Linked DNA regions of Homo sapiens: all the other regions are linked to region 1. The links come from fine-mapping of genetic effects on gene expression. A gene starts in region 1. Each other region holds a variant in brackets. All regions are shown on one strand. Distances are between the middles of the regions.

Region 1 (8,252 bases):
AGGGAACCTTAGTAAGCCAGAAGGAATGAATAAGTATTTGAACAGGAAATATATTAGATGGCTGGTGTTGGGTTTATGAAAATTAAGATTGAAATTAATATTGAAACTCCAAAATGTAAGATTTAGGGTGCAATGGACCAAATGCTATTTAAGTGGTATTACACAAAAATTGCTGCGAATTTTTAATGATTACATTTCTTGCAATAATTTGTAAAGAAAATTTTGGGTAAGCACACATATAACTCTGAATTATGTATGTGCAGACACATTTCCAATCAATTTGAATTCTTTTAAGGGTGAGGATATAGTTTCAGGAAGATTTCAGATTTTGTTTTAAATAGGAACTGACACTCTAGAAAGAAAAAAAAAAGGCCTATTTATGTTATCATTAACTATAGAGAGTCTGTACTCCTTAACACACATCTGAGGCTTCCTATGATCTGGCCCTACCTACCTTCCCTACCCATGCCAGCCTGGGCAATCTCTCTTCTAAATCCCCTCAAACCCTGTAAAATATAAGCTCACCTCTATGAGAGCTAGGCTTTTCCCCTATTTAATGAATTGCCGTCTCTCCTAGTATTGTGCCTGGCATATAGTAGGTGTTTAGTAAGTATTTGTTATAGAAGCCTCTAGGATTGGCATGGAGCCCTCCAGAAACTCACAGCCTAGCTGGAACAAAGACATCCACAAAAGCAATTATAATAGATGAAAATAGTTATCATAATTAAGATATAAGAGCTAAGACCACTTCTAACACTAACAAAGACATCCACAAAAGCAATTATCATAGATGAAAACAGTTATCATAATTAAGATATAAGAGCAAAGACTACTTCTAACACTATTAGCACGTACATGTCAGACGGTGTTCCACATGCTATGGTCTGGGTGTTTGTGTTCCCCCCCCATAATTCATACATTGAAATCCTAACCTTCAAAGTGATGGTATAAGGAGCTGGGGCCTCTGAGAGGTGATTACATCATGGGGCTGGAGCCCTCACAAATGGGATTAGTGCCCTTAGAGAAGCAGCTCAAGGGAGCTCTTTTGCCCCTTCTACCATAAGACACAGCTAGGAGGTGCAGTCTATGAACCAGAAAGTAGACCCTCACCAGACCACAAATCTGCTGGCAGCATGATCTTGGACCGTCCAGCTTCCAGAACTGTAAGAAATAAAGGTTCATCGTTTATAAGCCACCCACTACATGATATTTTTTATAGCAGCCCGAATGGACTAAAACACATGTATTAATTCACCTAATCCTCACAACAACCCTATGAGGTAGGCATTATCATTATCCTCATCTTTGGTGGTACAAGGAGATAAAGTGACTTTCCCAAGGTCACACAGCTAGGAAGTAGTGAGTAAATCAGAATCCAGGCAGTCTGGCTCCAGGGTCCTTACAACGAATTAGTGACTGCAGGCACAAGCATAGAGTAACCTGACTCAAAGACCACTGAATTTTCTTCTAAGTCTGGGATTCCAGATGATTGTCTCACTAGTGCTAACAGTGAAGTATAGAAATGTGGGGGAAATATTTATGAAACCTCTTCCATTTGGAACACATTGGTGCTTCTCAAACTTTGGATGCCTGAGAATCCCCTGTGAAGATTCAGAATTTCAGGACTGGAATCCGGAAGATTTTGAGTCAATAAGGTTGGAATGTGGACCCAGTATCTATATTTTTAGCAAGAGCTGCAAGTGATGCTGGAGATCTTCTGATCACAATTTGAAAACATTGTACTAGGCCTATTCTCCAGAGGACCCTTTGGCTCAGATTCTGCATTCTCTTTCCAGGCCTGGCTCTCCTCTGTTGGAATGTGTCTGTAAGAATCCTTCGACTCTGCAGTGCTGCTGGTGCTATTCAGGACATCTTCAGCTTCAGAAGTTCCTTGGATGACAGGCACCATAACCCTTAACCCACTTGGTAATCTCTCATTTTTGGTCTGTCTCCTCTTGAGGGCCAAGGCTGTATCATACTCCTCTCTACATGCCCAGACCTTAATTCAGGGCACAGGAAATGTCTTCAGAATGAACTGATGAATAGCATGAGCTAGGGCTGTGCTCCAGACCCACCAGTCTTGCCTTTGAGAAGCTCACAGTTAAGAGAAGAACATGAATATCTAAATTAATAAACTGCAGGATCAGGTAATAGGTAGCCATAATTACCTAAATATTAGCAGCATGTTATATGTGCCTAGAGAACAAATGAATAATTCATTAAGGTGGATGGATGGCATGGGATGCCATGCTAGAGGAGTACATTAAGAGCTGTTAAAGCTAAATTGTGTCCCCCCAAAAATTTCTGTGTTGAAGTCCTAACCCCCATTACCTCAGAACATGACCATACTTGGAGACAGGGTCTTTACAGAAGTAATGAAGTGAAAACAAGGTCATGAGGGTAGGCCCTAATCCAATATGATGTATAAGAATAGACAATTAGGACACAGACGCATACAGAGGGAAGAGGGAAGACGGCGTGAGGACACAAAAGCGGGGCCATCTGCAAGCCAAGGAGAGAGGCCTCAGAAGAAACCAACTCTGCCAACACCTCGTGAGAAAATACAATTTTTCTTTTCTTTTTCCTTCCTTCCTTCTTTTTTTCTTTCTTCTCTCTCTCTCTTTCTTTCTTTATGAGACAGAGTCTCACTCTGTCACTTGGAGTGCAGTGGCCCGATCTTGGCTCACTACATCCTCTGCCTCCCGGGCTCAAGCGATCCTCCCACCTCAGCGTCCCTAATAGCTGGGACCAAAGGCACACACCGCAAAGCCTGGCTAATTTTTGTATTTTTTGTAGAGACAAGGTGAGCAAATAAATTTCTGTTAAGCCACCCAGTCTCTGGTACTTTGTTATGGCAGCCCTAACAAACAAATACAGGAGCAGATTATGAGAATTTACTAAACCAAACCACAGAAATTAAATTTTATCCTTTCAGCTGCCAGAAGCCCACAGAGGTGTCTAAGCATCAACGTGACAAATAAGCAGCTTTGGTTCTGCAATATAACCTGGAAATAGTGAGGACACCGACGTGGAGAATAGAGATGGGAGTTGACAGGGATCAATTGTTCTAATGCGGAATAATGCAAGACATAAGATCAAGCCAGCAGGAGTGAGAAACAGAGATCATATCAGGGTGATATCTGTGGGGCAAAAGTAACAAGAAGATAAGGTGTAGGCGGTGGAGGGTAAACCGCGAGGCTTCCATGAAGAAGAGTGGCCTGGGAAGTGAGGAGGACAGCGAAGCCCCAAACCTCACCTTGGGATACGGGAAGTGAAGCAGGTTCCAGAGAAGGGGACAAGATAATGACTTAGGGTAGGATAAATTTCAGACAATTGCAGAGCATCACATTAGATGTGTTCAGAAGAGTGGAAATAAAGTTCTGTGCCTAGGCCCTCATGCAGGATTCTGTTGCTAGAAGTCAGTGCTGGCCGCAGGGAGACCGGAGATCACAGTGGAGGCACCAGCGATCCGAGAGTCCTATGACGAATCCCTGGGATCCCCACAATGTGTGGAGACAGAAGCCAACCAAAGAGCGAGAAAGCATCTCCAAACCAGCAGAATCAGGGGCAGGAGGCCCGCCAAATGCACAGCAAGTCAGCCTTGGTAGTTTGCAAATGGAAAGATTTCTTTGACCCGCTGGAGACTTCAGCTCAGGCTGGATGTCGCTAATTCACACCATCTCACCAAAAGGTTCTTTCCCTGCCCTTTGGTGAATCGAGGCAGAAGTGGCTGGTGGATAACTGGGACCCAAGAGTTATCTCAGCGTCGGGCAGGCATCGACAGCTCCAGGAGCCCTTTCCCTGCAGGCGGGCTGGCGGGTGAGCGATTCCCTCCCTTCCCAGGCCTTCCCGGGAATGGAACGTGGGCGCCCGCGCCCGGGCTCCGGTTCCACTTGGAACGCGGACTCGGGAGCCGCCGGGCGAGCGCGCAGACCGCGGGGGCGGCTCCCTCGCACCTCCCCGCTCAGCGCGCCGCGGCGGATGGGCGAGGCGGGGCGAGGCCAGAGGGAGGCGGGCCAAAGGGGCGGGCGAGAGGACGCGGGACCGCGGGGAGGTCGGGGGCGGGGAGCAGGCGGCGGCGGGCGCCGGGAAGAAAGGAACATGGCTCCTGAGGCGCACAGCGCCGAGCGCGGCGCCGCGCACCCGCGCGCCGGACGCCAGTGACCGCGATGGTGAACTCCAGTCGCGTGCAGCCTCAGCAGCCCGGGGACGCCAAGCGGCCGCCCGCGCCCCGCGCGCCGGACCCGGGCCGGCTGATGGCTGGCTGCGCGGCCGTGGGCGCCAGCCTCGCCGCCCCGGGCGGCCTCTGCGAGCAGCGGGGCCTGGAGATCGAGATGCAGCGCATCCGGCAGGCGGCCGCGCGGGACCCCCCGGCCGGAGCCGCGGCCTCCCCTTCTCCTCCGCTCTCGTCGTGCTCCCGGCAGGCGTGGAGCCGCGATAACCCCGGCTTCGAGGCCGAGGAGGAGGAGGAGGAGGTGGAAGGGGAAGAAGGCGGAATGGTGGTGGAGATGGACGTAGAGTGGCGCCCGGGCAGCCGGAGGTCGGCCGCCTCCTCGGCCGTGAGCTCCGTGGGCGCGCGGAGCCGGGGGCTTGGGGGCTACCACGGCGCGGGCCACCCGAGCGGGAGGCGGCGCCGGCGAGAGGACCAGGGCCCGCCGTGCCCCAGCCCAGTCGGCGGCGGGGACCCGCTGCATCGCCACCTCCCCCTGGAAGGGCAGCCGCCCCGAGTGGCCTGGGCGGAGAGGCTGGTTCGCGGGCTGCGAGGTAAGAGCGCGCGACCCGCAGCGGCAGATGCACGAACCAGAACGGCCGGCGCCGGCCGGGGCCATCGCCCGCTGCGGCAGCTCCCCGGGCTCCATCTCGCATCCCCTCTGCGTTCCGCCTCCCTTGGAAGCGCATTCCCCACCTCCGCTAGTGCTGCCCTATTTCCGGTACCCAGCGCGGAATTCCACTGCTCTTTTGTTGGTGCATATTTATTGGATACCTCCTTCTTCAGGATATGTCACCATAGTCTTTTTTACTGAAAATTAGTGAAAGCCTAATTAGAGTGAAAGAGTACATCTGGGTTTTGTTTTTTTTTTTCTTGTAGAGGAAAAAATGAACATTACTTGTGTAACTGATGGTAGTTGCAACTGCATATTTGCCAATGTCACAAAATCTAAAGGAAAATGTTATAGTCACCCGTGGTTTCCTTCTTGCCTGGACACTCCATTGTCCCGGGCTGAAAAGGGTAGCAGTACAGTGCATATAATGTCAAGTTGTGGGAGGAGTGTGGCAGATTGTCATTGGTGCATTTTTTTGGTGATGTGTGTGGTTGTTTTGAGGAGTGGGAGCTGTTAAGAACACCACAAATAGAATAAAATAATATCGTGAAGTTATTTGGCCGTTTCTAATTCTAGACATTTTTCTAAAAACAGTTGCAAAGGAAAGATTACATTGTTTTAAAAAAATTTGAAGTATGTTTTTAAATAACTAAATTAATGTTCTTTGAAATTCCACCAAAATGATGAAGTCACCAGATAGCAGCTGATAAATGTGTCTGAGCCCAGTGCGCCCAGCTCTACAAAAGGCAGAAGAGGAATTTTCAAATTTGCCAGTGCCCAGTAAGAGGACATGAATTTTCTAGTACCAGAGGAAATTCTCTTTTTACAAATTTTGTCAGAGGTATCCTTGGGAAAGTATTTCATTTGCTTTTACCCTCCAAATTATTTTAATCTATATTTTTAAGAGTTTCCATTCTCAGTTGAGTTTTTCTTGTTCTTCTCCTTCTGTCAGTTTTGAAAGTCTTGCACAAAAACAATCCAGGTGTTGTTACAGCAGTGTGATTAAAACCAGGTCAGGCCTACACTGAAATCCCAGTTCCACCACTCATTAGCTGTACGACCTTGAGCAAGTTACTTATCCTCTCTGATACCCAATTTTTGGATTTTTTTTTTTTTTAAAGAGATGATCATAACGCTTAGGACTTGACTCTTTGGGAGAATTAAGTGAGTTAAGACATAAAATGTGCAGCATGTATTTGTCATGTTATTAGCGCTTCAGAAATATAAATGTAAACATTTTGGTACTTCGTTTATGGAGATTCTTATACTAGTTAATTTTATTAAAAGCATGATGGGGAACAGAAGATCCTTTTCGGATAACCTGTGTGAGTAAATTAATAAAACACTAACACTTTTTAAGATTCAAAACTGGATTAATTATGTTATTTTACACCATTTAAAATGTGCATTTAAAAAATATTCACTGAAGTGAGAGAGAAGTTCCTTTTAAGTTAATAAATAATGGTAAGTTGCATGATCCTTTTAACTCAGTTTAAGCATTTGATAACACCCCTAACCTTGTTTGAATAAACTCAATAACAGAATATAGAGAAATAAAATATATATTTCATATGAGTATGTATGTAAATTTATTTCTTTTAAAGGAAAATTTCAGGAAACAAAATGAATAAGCTCATAGTCATAAAACCTCTAGCCAAAGTGTGTCAATGGTCTGATTTGTAGGAGAGCAGACTCAGGAATCGGGAATTTTTTTTTTTTTTTTAAGAGTCGGGGTTTCACTCTGTCACTGAGGCTGGAGTGCGGGGAAGCAAACGTAGCTCACTGCGGCCTCAAACTCCTGGGCTCAAGCTGCCCTCCCACCTCAGCTTCCCAAGTAGTTGGGATTACAGGTGCAAGCTGCTGCTCCTAGCTGAAAAGTTTTAATTATATAAAATGTTTAAATAAATTGTTATTCCTTTCTTTTATGAAGAAATATAATTGATATTCTTGTCACTTATTAAATAAGCAACATTTTAAAATGTTTAGCACCTACTGTGAAGATAGCACTGTGCTAGCTGCTATGAATAAACTAGAATAGCATATCACTGTTTTCCTATGGACAAAAACCCAGAAATGTAAAATAAATAGCCATGAATGGGTTGAGATTCCCCCTGCCCCCTTTGGATACTGATGACAGAAATCTTATATGCACTATGTAAGCAGTGCCCTAGGATCAGAACAGAAAGTAACTTGCAATTTTTAAAGGTGGGAGAAATGACTGAAGTTTGGAGTGGTCAGGAGTTTCCCTGGAAGTCTCTTGCCTTTGTGACTTTGTATAGCTCCCTCAAACTACCTGAGCCTGAGCTCCTCATTTATAAAATGGAAGAATTGAACCTAGCTTCCAAGGTCCTTTCTAGCTTCACCATGCTCTGGTCTGTTGTTTAATGACATGAATCCAAGATGGACAACAAATGGTCGATTTTGCTCCTTCTACAGTAAATAGATCTATCTTCTTAGCAGAAGTAAAATAGTAAAGAAAGAAGACATGTTTGAGGCCTGTTGAGGCCTGTTTGCTGTATGCATTGTATCTAATCAAGGAATTGAGAATGTAGCCCTAAATATTAGGAAGGAGTTGAAAGTTTCTGAGCAGGAACAGAACATGCTGAAAGGAAATTGTGTCAGCAGCATGGTGTACAGGAGAGCTTGGCAGAGAGAAAGGAGGCAAGAAGACCTGTGGGAGGCAGCCAGTAAGGAGGTGAAGAGGGCCTGGACCAAAGGAAGCCAAGGATGACCGAAAGATTTAAAGATGAAGCCCAGATTTAAAAGTATCCTCAAGTATTTGTTTATTCTTTTCTTAGCAAATTCTTTTTAGTACAAAGATAAAATATGGCACTCTGAGTCATAAAATTTTCTGAATTTCAGAAGTTGAATGTTTTTCTGAATGTATCAACCTGTTAAAGTCAGTTCCTGTTTGTTATTTTAGGCGTATATTCTTGGGCTTTTTTTTTTTTTTCCTAGAGAAACTATGAAGTACTAGCTGTGCAAGTCAGGGTGGGCTAAGCTGCTAAAACAGATACCTCCCTCCCCTTCAATACCCTGAAGAACAAGAAGTTAATTTTTTGCTCGTGTAACATTTTAGAGAGGGTATTCCAGGTTGAATACCTGGAATAATGAATGAAATAATAAGTCGACTCTTATTTCTCCTAAAATAATTGGATCTTGACATTGAAATTGGTGTGCTGATTGTATTTAATAAGTGACCTCCAATGCAGTTATTTCATTTTGCCATACTTTATGTAATTTTTATTTTTTCTGCCTTCCCTTTCGATGTCTAAAGGGAAGCATAATTAGTTATTGGAAAGGTTATTGAGACTTAAAAAAAGATTTGAACATGGCTTTGGTTGATGCTACCACACAGAAACTGCAAACATCCAACTCACCGCTCTTAGTTGCTGTTCATGATAGTCTATGCACAGTGACTGATGAATT
Region 2 (8,235 bases), 30 kb before region 1:
CTTTACAGAATTGCCTCCCATTATAAATCACTTTATCTTCTCAACTCCAAAGCATCCCAGACACATTCTTTACCCGTGAATTCACAAGCCTTTTCTCTGAGAGAGGCCTTGGGACTAGGAACTTTTTGAATGAGTGTAGAAGTCGGGAAGGAGACAATAGTGTCAACTTGGGATTGCCTAAGGCAACAACAGAGCAAAACAAGAACGCTTTGGTTCTCTGGGTCTCTGTCCCTGATTGCATAGCGGGTCATTGTTGGGAAATATTTCCTCACCTGGCATTCCAAGAAATGGAGAGCTCCACAGCTGTATATAGTCCTGTCATTAAATACAGGAGTGTTCTATCCCGCTGGAATTAAGAAAATTGGTAGAACCAGATTGTGGTCTGAAATCTTTTTTCAGAAATGCTGCCATCGTGTGGCACTGCGGAGCTATGACCAGAAGAGTCCTGTAAAGGGTCGTATGGTTCATCTCAAGATGGCTGGGCTCCAGCATAATCTATTCCTATAATTAATTCTAGCTTCATATTGAATCATTCCCGTGGGCACAGAGTAAACTACAGTAAATCCTGTGGAAATTTTGTTGTTTTTAGAATTTTCAGACTTCCCTCCACTAAATTGACAACATGACACGCTTATGCGGGTATGTTTAAAGGAAAAAAATAGTTTTTAGAAGCAGAAAAAAGAAGTCTATTTTGCAACTTTATAATCTGTGTGCTTTCTATTTTATAGAGATAGTCGTCATCTTACTTATTAAAATGGGTGCTTATTACCTACAAACCAATCATATCAATTCATCTGGAATACATCCAATTTAAGGGAGACATATTTCCCCCTACCAAATGTTCATGAAACCTATGAATTAGCTATACACTATCACTGCAAGACATTATTTAATCTATATTTATATTAAAAGTAATATTTGGCAAAAGGAAGCTGACACTTTAGGACTAATAAAAACCACAATTACTTTTGCAGCAACCTAATAATAAATAGGACCATTTATTTTTCATCTCAATTACACACAAGTCTTAACAATAAAGGTGTAAGGTAAATAAATAGTGCAATCTGCATTTCACAACTGAGAAAGCAAATGAAGATAAGTAATCTCAAGGCAATATTAAATATTTTAAAAGGACCCAGAGCTCTGCTATCCCTGAATTCTGCTCTAATATTCGGACTTTCCCTGTAATTTTCTTTCATTCAGACACCTTTTAAATACCTAGTAAAGTGTTTTTTAATACAGAAATTTTTAAAAATGTTTTTCTTTTTAAGTGGCCTACTTTACATACCTTGGGAGAAAAACTAGAAAAAAAGATGATTCCAAAATCGAATCTGTTCCTTTAGAAATGTGCAAAATTTCCTTATTGATGCATACAATTTAAAGATCTTACGTCTACTCTCATTTTAATAACCTGTTCTTTTAAAGGACATTACAATTCGTGACTGCCTGCCCCTCTTAAAAATTTCATAATAGTTAACACACATATAGTCCTTAAGATACGCAGAGCATTTGCATCTAATATGTGCTAAGCATTGCTAGTTTAACATACTAATTCATTTAAACCCCTCAAAAACCCCATGACCTAGGTAATAGTATTGCATTTCATGGATGAGGGAACAAGGATAGGTAGGCTGGGCGATTTGCCCAAGGTTGCACAGGTCAGCAGTGACACAGCGGAATTCAGAACCACGGTCTGGCTCCTGAAGCAGCCCTCTCAAGCAGTCATCCTGCTCTCAGTCAGAAACTGCTTTACTTCTGCAACATCTAGAATAAATTACCATTCTTCTATTTCATATAGAATTTTATATTTTAATGTCACTAGTGCCATTTGTCTAAGTAACAAGCTACTGCATACTCGAAATCACAAAGCTAAGCTTGAGTAGTAAAGGACAGAGGCAAGTTTTCTGAACTCCTTGCAGGCTTGAACAATAGCCTTCTGGCTCTTCAATAAGTACAATCATACAGGCAAGAGTGGTTGCAGATATTACCTTTATGTTACTTAAACCGAAAGAAACAAAAATCCATTCTATTTAATTTTACATTAATGTTTTTCCCTACTTTCTCCCTTTTTCATGGGATCCCTAAGTGCTCTTCCTGGATGCTGAATGCCCATCCCGTAAATGAAAAAGCTAGTTAATGATATTGTACATAAGTAATGTTTTAACTGTAGATTGTGTGTGTGCGTTTTTGTTTTTTTTTGTTTTAACCACAAAACCAGAGGGGGAAGTGTGGGAGCAGGTGGGCTGGGCAGTGGCAGAAAACCTCATGACACAATCTCTCCGCCTCCCTGTGTTGGTGGAGGATGTCTGCAGCAGCATTTAAATTCTGGGAGGGCTTGGTTGTCAGCAGCAGCAGGAGGAGGCAGAGCACAGCATCGTCGGGACCAGACTCGTCTCAGGCCAGTTGCAGCCTTCTCAGCCAAACGCCGACCAAGGTACAGCTTCAGTTTGCTACTGGGTTGTGCATTCAGCTGAATTTCATGGGGAAGTCCAAATTCTAAGGAAAAATATTTTTAATTGTAATGCTGTTAAACAGACTTAAATTTTCTAGCCTTTTTAATAAGCAGATTAGATACATTGCAGGTCTCCTGGAACAAAGGTGTCTAGATATTTTGAATGCCAATCAAATTTAAAACTTAAAAATACTTCCACTGGGTCCTCAAAAGAACGGAAACCACCGATGCTAATCAGAAAATAGTAAAATTAAATTCCCCTTTGGAATAATTATACCTATATAATTTTCAGTGGGTGACTGTGCAGGAATTTAAAAGAAAAGGGATCTTTTATGCTAATTAAACCAATTACAATGCTATTTTTTAAATGATGTATCTCACTTTTAAGGGGAAGAAAACCCTTTCTGAATATGCCACTGCTAAATTTAGCTGTTAAAATATTCACCAAGATACCTGTATGACACTGTGTAGGCTTATTATTACAAATAGAAAAGCTGTTGGCTATTTTCAATGTTTTCCTTTGAATTTCAAATTTTTAGAACATCTTACTTAAATAACAAATTTCAGAGATAGTTTGATTTCACCTAAGTAGCACCTACTTGATAATTAAGCTAAAAGTCACATTTAAAGTACATGTTGGAAAAATGGATAAAGCAAATTTTTTTCATTTTTTTCTGTGAGTTTTTTCTTCTCTAAAAAATATTCCCATACTAGCTTATTAATATAATTAAGTTACTGTTGATCTGTTTGTAGGTTTAGAGAGCTAGATATATAAGGTAGTAATGGTATAATTTCTGGAACTCTAAATTTTAAAGTTGAATAAATACAGACTTGCAAAATTTCCCTTTCCCTTGCCTAATAGTGAAAGATGGATAATAGGTGGCAATATAAATATTAACTTGAAAGACTATAATACTAAAAAGAAAAGGCATCTCTAAGAAGTAGAAAAGATTCTATAGAAAATATATTTTATTTGTGATCATTTTGTAATGTGGTAGTATAAAAAGGTATCACTGTTGTAACCTATGAAGATGTCAGCTATTCCTTATGAAATATTTTGCAGGAAAACTCACTACCATGAGAATTGCAGTGATTTGCTTTTGCCTCCTAGGCATCACCTGTGCCATACCAGTGAGTACAGTTGCATCTTAAAGAAAATTCCTGAAAATAACTGAATTGTGTGCTTCCATGTGCTAGGAGGACATTCTTGTAATCTTTCTTCATCTTTTCTGTTTCTAAGGTTAAACAGGCTGATTCTGGAAGTTCTGAGGAAAAGCAGGTAAGCATCTTTTATGTTTTTATATAGTTAAATCATTTACTCAATTATGGCGAGAGGTGCAAGAAACGTATTTGCTGCGATATTACTTATCTTCTCAGTCAAATCCATTGGTTTACAAGTATTGATTGACTGCCTGCTATGAATCTAGGCCAGTACCAAGCACAGTATAGTTTTTAATAAATATAAGTTTATAAAACCAACCCAGATATTTTAAATATAATAATATCTAGGCATGTATGATGAGTTATCGCATGTAAGATAAGTTATATGAAGTTGTGTGACTTTTTTTCCATTAGTCCACATACTGATCTAAAAGCAGAAAATTCCAGCTTTTGCTTTGTTTAGTGGATTGCTAAGTTTAAAATTCACATTGGATATTAGTCAGAACTGTTTGTATGACCATAATATTCACAATATTGTCTGAGATATTAGCTGAGAAGCCCATTGTGAAAAGAAAGTCTATGTGTGCTGTTTGTATCTATTGTGATTGTCAGCTGATGTTAGATCACATTTTCTAACCAAACATAAGACCAACCAAACTCTTTATTATAATTATTTGACCAGCACTAAAGATGTACCTACCCCTCCACAACAGATGAAACTGTGCCAGCCAAACAACAAATGGGCATTGTCCCCAGAAGCTTGGACAAAAAGGCACACAGAGTTCAATTCCAGTTGAACAGAATAAAGG[C/T]CAAAATAGAGCTGCCTTGGGGGTCACTGCAATTAGACTGCTTAATGAAGACATTAAAAGAAGTATTCTGTGTTCGTTTGTGTGTGGAGGGGTGTGTGTGTCTGTTTTTCAACTGATTTGAAAATACAGGTGTTGAATCCTAATAATAAACCAGAAAAATTAACATCTCCAGAGAAGATAGAGGTCATACTATTTGAGGCAAGAATTAGCGTCTTTTTAATAAACGAAAATATGGCAAAGATGCATTTTAGAAGGCACGTGGAGCTATAACAATTTAAGAAATACGTGAAGAGCTCAAGGCTCAGCCTTCTAGAATCCCAGAAACTTAAAGCTAGTAAAAAATTGGGGAAGTCTCTAAGGATATATGCCTGAAAATACACACTGGTTATCTGTGAGTGTTAGGATTACTGGGTGGTTTTTAGTCTATTCATTTTGCTTACCTTTATTTTCTTCATATTAGTTTTTAAAAATTATAAATGTAACTTATACATCCATTCTCTCTGAGCCTGTATTACATGTGTCATGAGAATAGATAGATAGATATGAAAAAGTGAAGAGAAAAACTCTGAACTCATCTGGTCTCACTGTTTTTCCGCCTTCTTTTTTTTTTTTTTTTTTTTTTTTTGAGACGGAGTCTCGCTCCGTCGCCCAGGCTGGAGTGCAGTGGTGTGATCTCGGCTCACTGCAAGCTCCGCCTCCCAGGTTCACCCCATTCTCCTGAGTAGCTGGGACTACAGGCGCCCGCCACCACGCCCGGATAATTTTTTGTATTTTTAGTAGAGACGGGGTTTCACCGTGTTAGCCAGGATGGTCTCCATCTCCTGACCTCGTGATCCACCCTCCTTGGCCTCCCAAAGTGCTGGGATTACAGGCGTGAGCCACTGCGCCCGGCTGTTTTTTCATCTTCTTAAAGCAAGGAACCCCTTCTTTCAGCAAAACCTTTCGGAGAAGCCCAATACTAAGCTCCTCTGGTTAGAGCCAGCCATGAGAGAAACTCCAAGTACTTCTGACTGGTTCTCTCTCTACTCATCCACCCCTTAGGTGGCTGCAGAAGGAACTCTGTGCAACCCCCAGAGTTCTCATTCTCAGTGACAGGGAAATGTAATGATTGGCCCTGGATGATTCAGCAGATCAGATGATACTTACTCAGAGCAATTTCCACTCCTTTGCAGTAGCATATTATCAGTATTTTCCAGATAAATAACTTGGCTAAAGAAAAATCCATTTCATTTACATCTTTGGCACCTTACAGCAATAGAACTTTTGTGCAATGATTTTAATATTATATTTCTACATTGGCTGATAAGATACATATGGCTATTGAGCACTCAAAATGTGGGCTAGTGCAACTGAGGAACTGAATTTTTATCTTCTTTTTTTTTTTTTTTTTTTTTGAGATGGAGTCTTGCTCTGTCACCCAGGCTGGAGTGCAGTGGCGCAATCTTGGCTCACTGCAAGCTCTGCCTCCTGGGTTCACGCCATTCTCTTGCCTCAGCCTCCCCAGTAGCTGGGGGTACAGGTGCCTGCCACCACGCCCGGCTATTTTTTTTTATTTTTATTTTTTTTAGTAGAAACGGGGTTTCACTGTGTTAGCCAGGATGTTCTCGATCTCCTGACCTCGTGATCCGCCTGCCTCGGCCTCCCAAAGTGCTGGGATTACAGGGGTGAGCCACCGTGCCTAGCCATTTCATTTTAATTAACTTAAATTTAAATAGCTCCATGTGGTTAGAGGATACTGAATTAGCACAGTCTTAGAGAGTTCCTTCTTGTTCCATGGACTGGACACAATGAAGATTAACAGTAATTAAGGTCACTTCTGGTTTAGATGTGCTTTATCTGAGAGGAAAATTCAGCCAGCAAACATACAAAAAGAAAGCACAGTGTGAAGTTCGGTGTTAAGAGCTAGTTTGCCTGCGTTTGAACCCTGCCTGGCTCTGCCATTTCCTACCACTTAACTGCACTGTGGCTGAGTTTTCTGATCTGTAAGGTGGGAATAATAATGATACCTATCTCATAGGGGAATGAAAGGATCAAATGAGTTCATATTTGTAAAGCAATTTGAAAGAGTGCCTAGCCCACAGTAAGTGCTACATAAGAGTTTGTTAAATGAATCTGCAAAAAAAAAAAAATTACAAAAAGGTACCTAAGGGTCCGGGTGACTATATGCTTCCATCAAGACTAGTGAAGAATGGTTGTTTTTTCCATTCATCCCTACATTTCTTTTTTTAATAATGATAAACATGCAACTTTTTTGTAGCTTTACAACAAATACCCAGATGCTGTGGCCACATGGCTAAACCCTGACCCATCTCAGAAGCAGAATCTCCTAGCCCCACAGGTATTTTTAAACTTCTCATAATTAAACTACAGTGATGAAAGATAGCCACACTCAGGCCATTTGGGCTGCTCAGATGAATCCTGCCTGCCTGCTGGCAAACATGTGCTTAGGACATTGACTGATCTGCCATGTTGGCTTCTCTCTGTGTTAAGCCATCCACAGATGAGGCTGAAAAATAAAAACTGCTTTGGATTAAAAAGGTTAACTTTTGAATAAAAAAGCTAGGCATGTGTGATGCGCACTAACACGTGCCATTCCTTCTTCAGAATGCTGTGTCCTCTGAAGAAACCAATGACTTTAAACAAGAGGTAAGTTCTCATTTTCAATCAGAGGCCCATCATGCCTTGAAGAGATGAAAGAAGGCATTGCCTGGATTCTCTTCTGATGAAATTTCATTAGCAAGTTTTCCAGCTAATTGGCAGTCTAAAACTTGCTCATAAATAAAACATGTATTTACTAAATATCAGAAATACTAGGTTTCCTCGGATAAGTTTAGCATTACAGAAGATGTTTATTAATGCCTGTTATTTGAAACATTAATCTGCTTGCAATTTATTTAAGGTATTTTGTAGATATCTAATATCTAATAAGCATCTAATTAATGCATATCAAAGCTAAGATTTTGCCTTTAGGAAAGTTTTCTTTCCTAATAAAATAGTTTATTTGACAACTATTCTTTTTATTAGGATCATTCATATATTTGCTAAGCAAAGAGTAAATTTATTTTCCTTAAGATTCAATTTGAATATACTAAGAATATTAAAGCAAGTTAGATAAATTACCCAATATATTTGTCAATTTGAAATTTGATAGACATTAGTTGTTTAATTCAATGGGCAGTTTTGAGCTGCAGTTTATACACACATGCATAACAGAGTCACCTTTCAATTATCCATGTTAATAGGAAAGTGGTTATAGATTTTAGTACACACATTAAAATATGGATACTCTTCTCTTTTGATAAATCTCATTTCAAATAAAAAAACCAGTCTCATAATTATGTATCTGTATCTATTACATCATTGAATTTAGTAAATAATGTTTAATATGTATAAGGAAAAACAATGTTATTGACATGAAGATTATACTCACATATTTGGCTTGAAAATATCTATAAAAATAATTTCTGTTGCAAAGTAAGAAATGTTCTTCAGAATGTTATTAATCCCTGTGTTAAAAGAGAAATTGGAAGATGCTCACTTTAGCTCCTAAAAGCCATGGTATGTACTGTGAATGCAAAGATTCTGAAACTAAATAAAAAGAAAGATAGTAAAAGACTAATGTGCTATAAAGGCTAAGGGAAAATAAAAACCCATATATTAATTTTCCCGGCCATCTTAATTTTCAGACCCTTCCAAGTAAGTCCAACGAAAGCCATGACCACATGGATGATATGGATGATGAAGATGATGATGACCATGTGGACAGCCAGGACTCCATTGACTCGAACGACTCTGATGATGTAGATGACACTG
Region 3 (8,000 bases), 44 kb after region 1:
AGGATCACTTGAGATCAGGAGTTTGATACCAGCCTGGGCAACATAGTGAGACCCCATCTCTAAAAAATAAAAATAAAAAATAAATCAAAGGCAGAGTCATAATCAAGACCATGACACCATGTAAATTCTGTGTCTGCTCTTGACTCTATTATAACTTCTAAGATTTTTTTCAAGATGTTTTCCCTTCATCCTTATCACTTAATTAAGCATCCGTCACTTCCTTCCTGTGGTTTCAGTGTATAAAAGAATTTTTACAAGCTTTTCTCCCTTCAGCAATAACAGGTAACATTTCGCTAAGTCCAGTTGTACATTTAAGCATATAACAACATGCTTAATTATTAGATGCTTACAAGCTTTGCTTGGCATAGGTGTACCATGTATTATTCTATGTCTTTCCTTCCCACTGTCCTATGATAGCCATTACCTTCTGAAATCTCAGTAAATGATGCACTACCCTATTAGCATTCTCTCTTCTGTTAGCCCTCCTTATGAGAGTTATTCTTTCCCTCATCCCACTCCTAAAAATTCATTTGGCCTTTGTGGAGTATTTAGATCAAGTCATTATTAAACTATTCCCCACTAGAATTATTAATAGTTGATAAAATATGGAAAATATATTATTCATATGTGAGTGAAAGAACACTTAAAGCATAAAAAAGAACTACATGGCCATATATTGCATGGCAATAACTATATTAGCAGCAATAATAATTGTAATAGTAATAATAATAATGGCTAACACTTTAGAAGCTTCTGTGTTAGGCATTTCCGGGTGCTTTTCATGGTACAGAAGCTCATTTGTTCCTCATACTAACCCTCTTCACTACTCTGCCACTGCCTCTCAAGCCATGGATATGTGCACTTTAGAGTTTTTACTTAAAGTAAAAATTCCTGTAGAATAGATGGTGTTGACCCCATCAGACCGTGATGCAGTTAGAAGTGCATCCCGTCTTTTACGATGGCCATACAACATCACACAAATCAAGGTAAACCCTTGATCCCCAAATTCTCAATGTATTAATAATGAACAGAGTTACACAAGAATTTTAGCATTTAAGGAAACAGGAGAGACGATAATACTGGAAATAATTTTTCAGAATATTTCTGTTCGGATTGATGGCAGAGTGCAGGCCATATACATTGACAATTATTCCAGAACACAATTATTGTTTGGAGCTAAAAGGATGCAAACCCTGCCTCTTGGCTTATATGGATTTATTTATGTTTAGGCCATTGAAATAATGGTAGAAAGGTAAGTATGATATGCTAATTAAGAACAGACTTCCTTTTTATATTTTAACCAAAGAACTCAATATCAACAAAAGACTAGTCAGTGGTATTCACCCTTTTTGATCATACACACCTATCAGTGAAAGCTTTGACTACTACACACCCTAATTTATTATCTTTATTTGTAAATTGTGTGCCTACTTTGGTGTAACAGGTACATCCGTAAAACATACACATACATAGAATTTTAAAGATTGGAATAAAAGTTAATACAAATAGAATTCCAAAACTTTCTTACCACCTACCTAGAAGTTGTAACATTTTCTTCCCATAGCCCAGTGAATTGCCTTGCACCTGCTTTGGCGACCAATAGGAAGAAAGGCAATGATATCATGGAAATTGTCTCTTTGGCTCAACAGCCACAGCATTTTGCAAGTGTTTCTTTGAAAACTTGCTTCACTGTGTTTTTCAATTTTTTTTTTAAACAACACTTAATACTGCCAGACAACAATTCAGACAGTGTGCTTTTTGTTTATAAAGAACAAGGAAGGGCTACTGGAATCTCACTTGTCCTTTGAAACTTTTGCTGACCAAGTGTAGAAGTGAGGGCATGCCTTCTGCTCACCCACAAAACACACCCTGTGCTCCACTGGACCTTCAAACCAGTGGAAAGACCCAACGCTTTTTGTTTTATCTAGCCAAAATTTGCTTATGCTTACCCAAAACCTGAAAAGAAATTATATTCTTAATATAAATACAATCACATCTTGAAATCACTTTGAAATTTTCTTTATTTTCCTTTTTTCTTTCCCCAACATATGTTCTGAAGTACACAGGCTGCATCAGTCAGCCATTTGTCCTGAGCAATAGTCTTTCAAAACTAGAAGAATTACTTGAAAAAAAGAAGACTATTAAGGAATTTAAACTCAAATAATTTATTGACCACTTGCTAGGTTGTACAGGGTAAATTTTTTTTTTTTTTTTTTTTTTTGAGATGGAGTCTTGCTCTGTCACCCAGACTGGAGTACAGTGGCACCATCTCGGCTCACTGCAAGCTCTGCCTCCCGGGTTCACGCCATTCTCCCTCCTCAGCCTCCTGAGTAGCTGGGACTACAGGTGCCTGCCACCATGCCCAGCTAATTTTTTGTATTTTTAGTAGAGACAGGGTTTCACCGAGTTAGCCAGGATGGTCTCGATCTCCTGACCTCGTGATCCGCCCACCTCAGCCTCCCAAAGTGCTGGGATTACAGGCGTGAACCACCGCGCCTGGCCCGACTAATTCATTTATTCAGCGAGTGTTTTCTGAGCACCTACTATGTACTTGCCACTGTTCTAGGCACTGGGGATACAGGAATGAACAAAATCACCCAAATCTCTGCCCTCCCAATTTTCTGGTATGGAGAGAAAGTTCTTTTGTAGATAGGGATGAGAATCCCACAGAAAACTCAGGAGTGATGTAACAATGCAAATGCTCACAAAATCTCTTTCCTCATCTTTCATTCCCTATTTGGAAGGAAAGGTTTCAAAGACATTGATGTTGTATAAATGACCATCTTCTTCATTATTTTATAAACATTTGTCCTGTGCAGAGTAAAAACAACTGGACTGCATAACAAATTATACCTATTGAGAGTTGGGTAAAGAGTTACCATTGGATCCAGTCCACCAACCCAAATGTTTTTCTACATGTATTAGCTGAGATGAGCTCCTCATCTCAGGAGAAGCCTATTCCCACTGCAGGCCTTCTTGAGTCTGCTGTGTTCATCATTCCCACCACCAACACAAAAATACAAGATTGGCTCTGGAAATCCTTCACAGAGAAGGAAGGAAAGGAAGATGGTGAGGTTGGCTTTTTAGCTGTGATCAGCAACCAAGCTGGTCTTTGCTATGAGAATCAGTGGGACCATGATCTCTATGGTCATCTCAGGAAGGGAGGGCTAATGAAGTGGTCTCTGGCCATGATTCCTAAGAAGAGAGAATGGACAGCAAAGATCGCAGCACCTGCCACAGCCCACCTGCTGCAGATTCAGACCCCCTGGTGGGGCCAGGTTGTTATGACTAACCCCTAGCACTGTCTACATTTAGTGGTGATGGATGCCAAGGAGGGGGCAGTGTCCCCTTGGATCTGATTGTAAAGCTTAGAACCAAAGCATATGTGGAAAGTTGTAGGGTCATGAGTTAAGGGACAGAAATGAGCAAGAGAGAAGCCCTTGGCTCATATATTCCCACTGCAGGCCTTCTTGAGCCCTCTGTATTCATCATTCCCACTGTCTTTCAAGCCCAAGCTCATGCTTTGTTCTCATGGGCACTCATTTTTAGGATATCTTTTGTCCCTCTTGACTTTATGTTGTGTGATACCAACTCTTTAGTAGTTTTTTGTATTATTTAACTTCATGTGTTTATCTGCTCTTGAGTCTCGAGGGCAGGATTTATGCAGTTTACTTCTGTTTATTCCTCTTAGCCCTTGCACAGTGCTGTATACATAGACATCTACTATATTTTTGTTAAACAGAGCAAAGAATGGCTGGCAATTGGAGAATGCAGAGAAACCGAAAAATTTTAAATTTAAAAATCACAAATAAAAACAGCAGGATGAAGGCAAGAAAGCAAAAGGGTGGAAAGTGATTAAAATGAAGGTGGCAGAAAAAACAGAAAGCATTCCTCTTTGAGTTTGAGTCTGTTATAGTGTGATCTCTTCTGTGTATGCATGTATGTGTGTGTAATGTATATGTGCACACACATGCATGCATGCCTTCGTTGAGTTTCTATTCCGAACTAAGGAAATGCAAGCAATATACTGTTTTACTTATTTTATGGCAGGGCTTAACACTTTCCATTTGAGTGAGTGACTT[T/C]TAAGAATGACATCGGGTAAGTATAATGGTGAGCCCTTATAATTAATACATTGGTGAAGAAAAATATACTAGTCATATTAAGGTAAGTTTCATATTTCTAAAACACTGTAATAAAATATAAATATTTTGCTTTTCAGCTGTCAGTGGTAGCTATAGGAATTAACATATACAGAACATCAAATGTGGAGGTGCTACTACAGTTTCTGGAAGATCAAAATACTTTCCCCAACTTTGAGCATCTGGCATATTGGCAGATACAGTTCAACAATATAGCTGCTGTCACAGTATTTTTTGTCTGGATTAAGGTAATTTATAAATTTCATGTTCTACATTTTAAATAATATTTTCTTTAAAAAAAATGAGTTCCACAAAATCATGGAATACTTGAATTTGAAATTCAAGTGACCAGCCAAAGCTGCTCAATATTTACTTTGAGACAGGGTCTCACTCTGTCACCCAGGCTGGAGTGCAGTGGTATGATTACAGCTCATTGCAGCCTCGACTTCCCAGGCCCAAGCGATCCTCCCACCTTATCCTCCGAAGTCACTGGGACTACAGGCATGTGCCACCATACCCGGCTAATTTTTAAATTTTTTCGTAGAGACAAGGTCTCATTATGTTGCCCAGGCTGGTTTTGAACTCCTGGGTTCAAGCAATCCTCCCACCTCAGCCTCCCAAAGTGCTGGGATTACAGGCATGAGCCACCGTGCCAGGCCTCATATTTTACATATAAAGTAAACTATTGAGACTCATGTGATCATTCCTCTCACTGTCAATGACATACTTCTGCTATCTGAATTAGTGCAAGATCAGTCCCTATAGGTTTTGTTTAACAAATGCAGTAAGAGGCCTTTCAGTGTGTTAGCTGGGCCTGGGGCCCCAGGCTGCTAACAGATGAGATGAACAGGTGAAGGAAAAGGAACTTAGAGAAAGAGAGGGAAGGAGCAGGTGGAGGGAAGGGGAGAGTTGCTGCACTTGGAAATGCTTGCTAGAAGGGATCGCCTCTTTTCCAGGTAGAGGCTGTAAGGGAAGCTTTACCTAGAATTAAGGTTGGAACAGACACTGCTTCCAAATAGTTCCTTGCTCACTATTTTCCTTATTGTCCCAAGATATAATGTGCATTTCCATGTGTGTGAAAGGTTATGACATTTCATATACAACAAGCCTCAATTCTGGAGATGCAGGAAATTTCAATAATTCTCAGGCAGCAGCTGCCATTCGGTCACCAGCACAGGCTCTGATTGTGCTGTCCAGACAGTAAGTACTAGCCACATGTGCCTATTTAAATTCAAATTTAAATTAGTTAAGCTTAAATACAATTAAAAACGCAGTTCCTTGGTCCTACTGGCCACACATTAAGTGTTCAATGGCTACTGTCTAGGACAGTGGAAATGTAGAACATTTCCATCATCACAGAACGTTCTCTTGAAAAGCACTGTTCTGGAAGGTACTTACCCGTTATGTACTTTTCTGAGTTGGTATTCATACCTAGAAGACCTGAGGTTTATCACAAGACATAGACTTGGACCAGGCGCAGTGGCTCATGCCTGTAATTCCAGCATTTTGGGAGGCCGAGATAGGTCCCCTGAGCCCAGGAGTCTGATACCAGCCTGGGCAACATGGCAAAACCTCATCTCTACTAAAAATACAAAAATTAGCTGGGGGTGGTGGCACGTGCCTGTAGTCCTAGCTACTTAGGAGGCTTAGGCGGGAGGATTGCTTGAATCCAGAAGGCGGAGGGTGCAGTGAGCCAAGATCGCACCGCTGCACTCCAGCCTGGGCAACAGAGTGAGACCCTGTCTCAAAAAAAAAAAAAAAATGCATAGACTTTATCCTGTATTTCTCATGCTATTTATTTATTGACATGCTTGTTCAAGAGAAACCATCACTAAAGCACAAAACCTTGATCATAACATAGTAATAATAATCAAACAGCAAAAATAATAATAGTAATAAGAATGTTCTGTGGTGATGGAAATGTTCTATATTTTCATTGTCCTAGACAGTAGCCACTAACCATGTATAGGCATGGAACACTTAACATGTGGCTAGTAGGACCAAGGGACTGAATTTTTAATTGTATTTAATCTTACTTAATTTAAATTTGAATTTAGATATCCACACATGTTTGGATAGCACAGTCAGAGCCTGTGCTGGTGAAAGGATGGCAGGTGCTGCCTGAGAATTACTGAAGTTTCCTTGATTATTATTAGTTTAATAATAATAATCAAGATAGTAATAATAATCAAGATAGTAATAATAATCAAGATCTCAGCTGGGCACAGTGGCTCACGCACTTTGGGAGGCTGAGGCGGGCAGATCACCTGACGTCGGGTTTGAGACCAGCCTGGCCAACATGGTGAAACCCTGTCCCTACTAAAAATACAAAAAAAAAAAATTAGCTGGGTGTGGTGGCACGTGCCTATGATCCCAGCTACTTGGGAATCTGAGGCAGGAGAATTGCTTGAACCCAGGAAGCAGAGGTTGCGGTGAGCTGAATCATGCCACTGCACTCCAGCCTGGGCAACAGAGCAGCACTTCGTCTCAAAAAAAAAAAAAAAAGATCTCAAATGAATTGGGATTGTATTAAGTAATGATTAAGTAATGTGATTACAGCAATCCTCAAGAAATATTTCACTGTGGCCAGTAACAATGTGTAACAGACCTTTAAACTTCTAGAGATTTTCCTACAACATGTGTCTCAGGCTGATGTGTTTTATTTAGTGCTTCTCTTGGAAATGTCTTGCCCCTCGATACTTTATCATTAAGGTCTTTAAGGCAGGGATCATGACTCTACTTTTTTTTTTTTTTTTTTTTTTGGGACGGAGTCTTGCTCTGTCGCCCAGGCTGGAGTGCAGTGGCACAATCTTAGCTCACTGCAACCTCCGTCTCCTGGGTTCACGCCATTCTCCTGCCTCAGCCTCCCGAGTAGCTGGGACTACAGGCGGCTGCCACCACGCCCGGCTAATTTTTTATATTTTTAGTAGAGACGGGGTTTCACCGTGTTAGCCAGGATGGTCTCGATCTCCTGACCTCGTGATCCACCCACCTCGGCCTCCCAAAGTGCTGGGATTACAGGCTTGAGCCACCACGCCCGGCCTCATGACTCTACTTCTAATATCTCATCATGTGCTCTTCCACTGAGGCTTCTACTTAGAGCTACACAATCTGGGCAGCCATCCTCAGTGCCTTATCTACCAACATGCTCAATATGGCTTTGCAGGGTTCACTGTCTACCAGCAGGGTTCACTATCTACCAACATGCTCAATATTTCTTTGCAGTCAGGCAGAGCAGGCTTTGCAGTTCAGGCAGGGCAGCTGGCTGCAGGCCCCAGCTGACTCCTGGGGATAGAATGCCAATATTTCAGACATTGCAGAGATTTGAGGCAATGTACATAAAGCCCTCCACATATAACTGATGCACAATAAATGACAGTTAATATTATGCAACAAGAATTTCCTGGGGGGTTTTATAATTAATTTTTATTTGTGTGAAGTTTTTTCCCTCCCTTTTACTTTAATCCTTTTTGGGGGGAAAGCATCACTAGTCACAGTTCACGGCAGCCTCGACCTCCCAGGCTCAAGCAACCCTCCCACCTCAGCCTCCTGAGTAGCTGAAACCACAGGTGTGTGCCACCACACCTGACTAATTTATTTTTATTTTCTAATGAAACAGAATCTTGCCATATTGCCCAGGCTGATCTTAAACTCATGGGCTCAAGCGATCCTCCTGCCTCAGTCTTCCAAAGTGCCGGGATTATAGATGTGAGCCACTGCACTCAGCCTTTTTTTTTTTTTTTTTAATTGTAGATAGCATAAAACCTACTGTTTTAACCATGCTTAAGTGTACAATTCAGTGGCATTAAGTACATTCACAGTGTTGTGCAGCCATCGCCATTATGCTGCATTATTTTCAGA

What was found. PIP is the estimated chance that this variant, and not a neighbour inherited with it, causes the effect.
Region 2: its variant is fine-mapped to the expression of PKD2 in anterior cingulate cortex (GTEx, PIP 0.98). The same link has a PIP of 0.9 or more in prefrontal cortex and spinal cord.
Region 3: its variant is fine-mapped to the expression of PKD2 in whole blood (TOPMed, PIP above 0.99). The same link has a PIP of 0.9 or more in esophagus muscle, pituitary and spleen.

The regions. Positions count from the first base shown.
Region 1 is chr4:88,003,565-88,011,816 of GRCh38, forward strand. PKD2 (polycystin 2, transient receptor potential cation channel) reads left to right here and starts at 4,071. Exons shown (of 15, transcript NM_000297.4): 1 at 4,071-4,764. The coding sequence starts at 4,170. RefSeq lists silencers at 3,834-4,763, 4,814-4,953.
Region 2 is chr4:87,973,367-87,981,601 of GRCh38, forward strand. It overlaps SPP1 (secreted phosphoprotein 1), which reads left to right and starts at 2,348. Exons shown (of 7, transcript NM_001040058.2): 1 at 2,348-2,434; 2 at 3,516-3,583; 3 at 3,693-3,731; 4 at 6,680-6,760; 5 at 7,027-7,068; 6 at 8,109-8,235. The coding sequence starts at 3,530. LOC124900730 (a long non-coding RNA gene) reads right to left here and starts at 403. Exons shown (of 2, transcript XR_007058172.1): 1 at 273-403. RefSeq lists promoters at 102-2,344, 1,344-2,431, 2,221-2,434, cis regulatory regions at 1,354-1,363, 1,579-1,587, 1,654-1,662, 2,100-2,115, 2,290-2,299 and 1 more and enhancers at 1,606-1,626, 1,989-2,488, 2,251-2,321. The variant C/T (reference allele first, on the strand shown) is at 4,423.
Region 3 is chr4:88,047,772-88,055,771 of GRCh38, forward strand. PKD2 (polycystin 2, transient receptor potential cation channel) reads left to right here. Exons shown (of 15, transcript NM_000297.4): 7 at 4,220-4,387. Among named protein-coding and RNA genes, the nearest start is that of PKD2, 44 kb to the left of the region's middle. The variant T/C (reference allele first, on the strand shown) is at 4,083.